2 separate regions of the Homo sapiens genome follow, and region 2 is linked to region 1. The links come from fine-mapping of genetic effects on gene expression. A gene starts in region 1. The other region holds a variant in brackets. All regions are shown on one strand. Distances are from middle to middle. Region 1 holds the start of STOML2 (stomatin like 2). Region 2 has its middle 15 kb from the start of NPR2.

The links.
Region 2: its variant is fine-mapped to the expression of STOML2 in lymphoblastoid cells (GTEx, PIP above 0.99).

The regions. Positions count from the first base shown.
Region 1 is chr9:35,101,867-35,104,772 of GRCh38, reverse strand. STOML2 (stomatin like 2) reads left to right here and starts at 1,642. Exons shown (of 10, transcript NM_013442.3): 1 at 1,642-1,723; 2 at 1,950-2,087; 3 at 2,579-2,678; 4 at 2,811-2,869. The coding sequence starts at 1,679. ATOSB (atos homolog B) reads left to right here. Exons shown (of 9, transcript NM_025182.4): 9 at 1-656. It also overlaps a transcript of PIGO-AS1 not described here. RefSeq lists enhancers at 1,375-1,424, 1,545-1,594, 1,605-1,874, 2,005-2,264.
Region 2 is chr9:35,774,782-35,777,687 of GRCh38, reverse strand. It overlaps a transcript of RGP1 not described here. Among named protein-coding and RNA genes, the nearest start is that of NPR2, 15 kb to the left of the region's middle. The variant AAGG/G (reference allele first, on the strand shown) is at 1,402.

The DNA.
Region 1 (2,906 bases):
GGAGTTGAAGAGGCTTATGCGGTGGGGGCAGGAGGAGAACTGCTTTCCCTCAGCTGAGGGAAGAGGGGCTATTCCAGAGGGACTGAGTCAGTAGCCAAAGACTCAGCTTCCCCTGTCCTTCCCCAGTCCCTTCACTTCCCCTACCCTCTGACCTATCTCTGAAAGCCAAGTTATGCGTATGTGTGTGTGCACAAGCTTGTCTTTGTGTGGTATGTGTGTGTGAGTGTGCATGTATGCACACACACAGGGGTTAACCACCCCTCACCTAGGGCTCCAGACTCCAGTTGTCCCTCTCCTCCTACCTGTGTCTCCTTGTTTTGGGGTCCTGACTGAAGAAGGTGTCCAGGGGGCAGAGTCAGGGCCAAGCACTGGGGTGCCTCCTCTCACCTGGCCAGACTCTGACCCACCTACCTCAGCTGGGGTGAGGGGCACCCCTCAAACTCAGTCATGTGGTTCCAAACTACCCCATTCCCCACTCCAGACTCTGACCCAGCCTCAGTCCTAACTCCTGGGGCTGGGCTGAGGGGAACAAGCATTTGCTGAAACTTGAAAAAACAAAGCAAATCAAAAACAGGAAAAAATTGTACCTGGTACTTTTTTTTAGAAAAAAAGATTAAAAAAGAAAGAATAAATTCTTGTTTGGAAACTTGAACTAAGCTCTACTTTTGTTGTTGTTGTTGTTGTTGGGGAGAGGGTGTGAAGGGGGATGGAGGGCCTTCCTGGAGCTGGGACTCAGCCCTTTCTACCAGAGAGGCAACAGGCCTGGGCCCATGAGGTCTTAGGCTAGTCCCTGCTGATTCCTGGGGCCTGGTTTTTCTCCTTTCGGAGGGGTTGGTGGGTAAAGTTCAGCCGTAGAAGCTGAACTCTGAATTGTAGATCAGGATTCTAATACTGGTTCTATTAATGACTTTAGCCCCTCAGAACTTCAGTGCCCTCATATGTAAAATGGAGGTGACTACGGAGGTCTCTTGACTACCAGAGCATTAGGGATGTGGGCAAGGTGACATGCTCCAGACAAGGTTGAACGTTGAGGCTGTTTGCTGGACTGTATTTAAGACCGGGCATAACAAACCTTGCTTGGGAAGACAGGGAAGGAGCTGCAGTGTCTTTGAGGAAAGAGGGGAGGGGAAAATCTCGGCCCAATCGCCAGGCAATATTAGGCCCAGTTTCCATGGCAACGGGATTGGGGTCAGTCCCCAGTGGGAGTCCTGGGCACAACACAGCGGGACTACCAGAGAATATCACTATGGCAACCATGGCAACGAGTCAGCTCCAATCCACTAGTCGCTATGGTGACAGATGGGGGCGATACTACGCTCTGGTGGGCAAACTGAGTCTCGGGTGAGGACGAATAATTCAGTGCGTGGTGTCTGAGTGATAATGCCCGCGAAAAATAGCCTCCATTTTGGCCATCAGGCCGGGGATCTTCGGCGTGAACAGCTAAACCCAGAACAACCACAGCCTTCGCCCTTCTCTAGAAGGTCTGCGTTTCCCAGGGAACAACTTGACGCGCCGTTCGACCAAGTAACGCTGATTGGGTGAGTGTTGAAGCGGGGGAGGGAGCTGCCGGAAGTACATCCGGGGGAGCGGAACTGCAAGAGGAAAGGCTCGGGTAGGCTTCTGGGAGCGACCGCTCCGCTCGTCTCGTTGGTTCCGGAGGTCGCTGCGGCGGTGGGAAATGCTGGCGCGCGCGGCGCGGGGCACTGGGGCCCTTTTGCTGAGGGTGAGAGCGAGGCAACCTTTCCAGAGGGTCAGGACAGAGATTACCTGGGTTCTCCGCTGGAAAAGAGCGAAATTCCAACTTTTGGAGAGGACTGGGGTCAGAGGTCATGGTCCCCATGTGATTCTCCGAGGATCCTGAGGGTCGTGGTTTATGGAGATGCCTTCAGGACCGAGGGGCGGCGTGTCTGGCCAGATGGGATCTCTGCTCACCCTCTTCTTTCCTTCAGGGCTCTCTACTGGCTTCTGGCCGCGCTCCGCGCCGCGCCTCCTCTGGATTGCCCCGAAACACCGTGGTACTGTTCGTGCCGCAGCAGGAGGCCTGGGTGGTGGAGCGAATGGGCCGATTCCACCGGATCCTGGAGCCTGTGAGAAACCTCTTCTGCCCACCCTGGGCCAGCCAGATGACCAATCCCTCACGACATGCAATGTCGGGAGGACTTCCTTTGGGCCTGCCCGCACTGTTAGCTCCCGACTCTGTAGGCCAGACCTGACAGGGCCCAGGCTGCTGACCATCATCCCCATGTTACCACCTTTTCCTATGCATCTCACAGGCCCCATTCTTGGGAATCTCCCCTGCCCACTCTCAGCCCTACCTCTCAGTCTGCATAGAGATGGCTATTCTGCTGGCTCCGATTCTCATGACTCTCCCCTCCATTCAGGGGCCTAGTCTTGCATTCCTGTTCTCTTGGGTTTTCTTACCAGTGACACCTCAGCCTTCTGAGGACTTATTTCTTGGTAGGAGCTGCTGCTTTTCTGGGCATGTTCCATGTGTTGACTCCCTACATACTCCAGGACTAGCTTAGGTCCCAACCCAATAGTTCCCAGCCTTCTGAGGACCCATGACTCCTCTTTCCAGGGTTTGAACATCCTCATCCCTGTGTTAGACCGGATCCGATATGTGCAGAGTCTCAAGGAAATTGTCATCAACGTGCCTGAGCAGTCGGCTGTGACTCTCGGTGAGGGGTTCAGGGTGACATGGGTGCTCTGAGGCTATTAGGATGTGGTTGCTGTAGATCCAGAGCTTAGTAGAAAGAACTGGTTGGGACCTAGAGGCCTGACTTTCCCCGTTTTCTCTCCTGGTTCTACAGACAATGTAACTCTGCAAATCGATGGAGTCCTTTACCTGCGCATCATGGACCCTTACAAGGTACCTGTCCCCTACTTTATCCAGCCTTTTGAGTTGC
Region 2 (2,906 bases), 670 kb before region 1:
ATAATCCAAGATCAGTAGGTCTGAAGAAGAAGAGTTAGAACTAGAACATCTTACAAGAAACAAGTACCAGGCTGGGCGCGTTGGCTCACACCTGTAATCCTAGCACTTTGGGAGGCCAAGATGGAAGGATCATTTGAGGCCAAAGTTTGAAACCAGCCTGGTCAACATAGCAAGACCCTATCTCTCTCTCTATATATATAAAAATAAATAAATGAAAGAAACAAGTACAAAAAAAAAAAAAACCACAAAACATGATTTAGGCCTGGCACAGTGGCTCACGCCTGTAATCCCAGCACTTTGGGAGGCTGAGGAGGGTGGATCACGAGGTCAGGAGATCGAGACCATCCTGGCTAACATAGTGAAACCCCATCTCTACTAAAAATACAAAAAATTAGCCAGGCATGGTGGTGGGCACCTGTAGTCCCAGCTACTGGGGAGGCTGAGGCAGGAGAAAGGTGTGAACCTGGGAGGCGGAGCTTGCAGTGAGCCAAGATCATGCCACCGCACTCCAGCCTGGGTGACAGAGCAAGACTCTGTCTCAAAAAAAAAAAAAAAAAAAAGAAAAACACCTGATTTAGATAACTTCATGTATAATGTCATAAAAACAAAGCTAAGATTGGTTGGGGTATATCTGGCCCAAGAATAAATTCAATTATTTTGATTTTCCACAAAGCAAATTTTTTTTTTTTTTTTGAGACAGAGTCTCACTCTGTCACCCAGGCTGGAGTGCAGTAGTGCCAGCTCGGCTCACTGGACGCTCCACCTCCCAGGTTCAAGCGATTCTCCTGCCTCAGCCTCCTGAGTAGCTGGGACTACAGTCGCCCGCCACCACGTCCGGCTAATTTTTTGTATTTTTAGTGGAGACGAGGTTTCACCGTGTTAGCCAGGATGGTCTCGATCTCCTGACCTCATGATCTGCTCACCTTGGCCTCCCAAAGTGCTGGGATTACAGGCGTGAACCACCGCGCCTGGCCCACAAAGCAAATCTTGATCAAACACTAGACAAGATGAACTGTAGGGCTGACTTAGACTCTTCCTTGAGGGCCAAGGATGACACTTTGAAAATAAAGAAATAAAATATTTATTTAGATGAGAATAGGGGGCCAGATGCGGTTGCTCATGCCTGTAATCCCAACAATTTGGGAGGCCGAGGGAGGTAGATCACCTGAGGTTAGGAGTTCAAGACCAGCCTAGCCAACATAATGAAACCCTGTCTCTACTGAAAATACAAAAATTAGCCAGGCATGGTGCAGACGCCCGTAATTCCAGCTACTCGGGAGGCTGAGGGCAGGAGAATTGATTGAACCCAGGAGGTGAAGGTTGCAGTGAACCGAGATCATACCACTGCGCCCCAGCCTGGATGACACAGCAAGACTCCATCTAAAAAAAAAAAAGAAGAAG[AAGG/G]AGAAGGAGAATAGGCCAAAAACAACAGGCATGATCTATATGACTGCAAAGGTTCCACATGAGTAGTCGTCATTGTCCTAAACACCTGCTGGGTCACCAAGAGAGAAAAACAGAGGAGTAATTTGATGCCAGCCTCTCCCACCAGTGACAGCTAAGAACACCTCCCACTACTGAGGGTAGCTAAACTGTCTAACAAAAAGGTCAAAGAAGTTTGCCTATCATCTGTGATTCAGAGGAAAACAAGAAAAGAGCATTACTGTTTTTTTCTTTCAAATCTAGGCCTTAAGCTAACCTGTTAGAGGTCAAATAAACAGGCTCCAAAATCCCCAGATTAAGACCTATTTGCAGTAACAATAAATGTAAAAGCACCTTGTATATTGTAAAGCATTATATAAATGTCCATTATTATGGTAATTATTAGGGGTCCGTCATATCCAAAATTGAACTACATCCCACCATCAGCAGTTTGGGACCATATTCTGGAAGAGTAAAGCAAAAATTTTTTTAAAAGAGTTTGCTTGTTTTTACACTGTGTAAAGGTTTTCAAATTTTTCATCTCTTCATTGAAAAGTCTAATAAGAAGAGCTGATCAGTAGTATATGACCAAAAAAGAGAAACTGTTCAACTTAGTTCAATATCCTTAAGAAGTGTACTAACTAGGAAGAGACAAACGCAAGCTTATGTGGAAGCGTGTGTAGTAAATGGTGGCGCTCCTTCCCATTCCCTCCACAGATGGCTTCCTGCTGAGCTCAGTCAGGGAGGCACTGGCAGAAAACTGAACGAGAGAAGCCAGACTATCTCTTCCCCTTCTCTCCCAGCCTTGGCCAGCATCTGGACAGGCACTCTTTGGCCCCAGCTTCCCTAGAACAGGCCCCCAAAGTTCCGGCTTCTAAGTTACCCTGCCCCTTGCACTTCCCCTCCTTCCCACAGCCTAGGGAGAATAGAAGGTTCGGTTGCTAATCTTCCCCTGCATTGCCTCACCTTCCCTTGAAAGGCTTCTCAGCTCTTCCACCATATTCACAGCCAGCTAATTCTCTGGATTAAATGCCCTCTGGTTTAAATGCTTAGAGTGAGTTCTGTTTTCCTGTTTGGACCCTAAATCTGGCAGCTAAACAAAAAAAAATGAATTTACTGCACTGAGGGCAAAGACCCTGGCTCCAAAACTGCCAAGTTCAAGGTTCACTGCTATCAGTGTGGGTCCATCCAGATGGAGTAATATAGAGGAGTGAAGAGACAGAACTGATTTCCCTTTTCTCCCAAAGGAACACAGGAGAGAAAATGAATTTGGAGAAAACAGAGAGAAAAGGGTATTATAAATTTCCTGCTTCCCAATCCTCGAGACAATATGGGGAGGAGGCTGCTGAAAAAGACAAGGATGTGACTGAAGCCCCCCCCACCAAAATTTGGGATGAGTCAAAGAGGGGAATTGACCTGTATAAAAACCAAAAACACTGAAAAGATTATAGTACTCCCCTCCTCCAAAAAAGAAATAAAAATAAAAT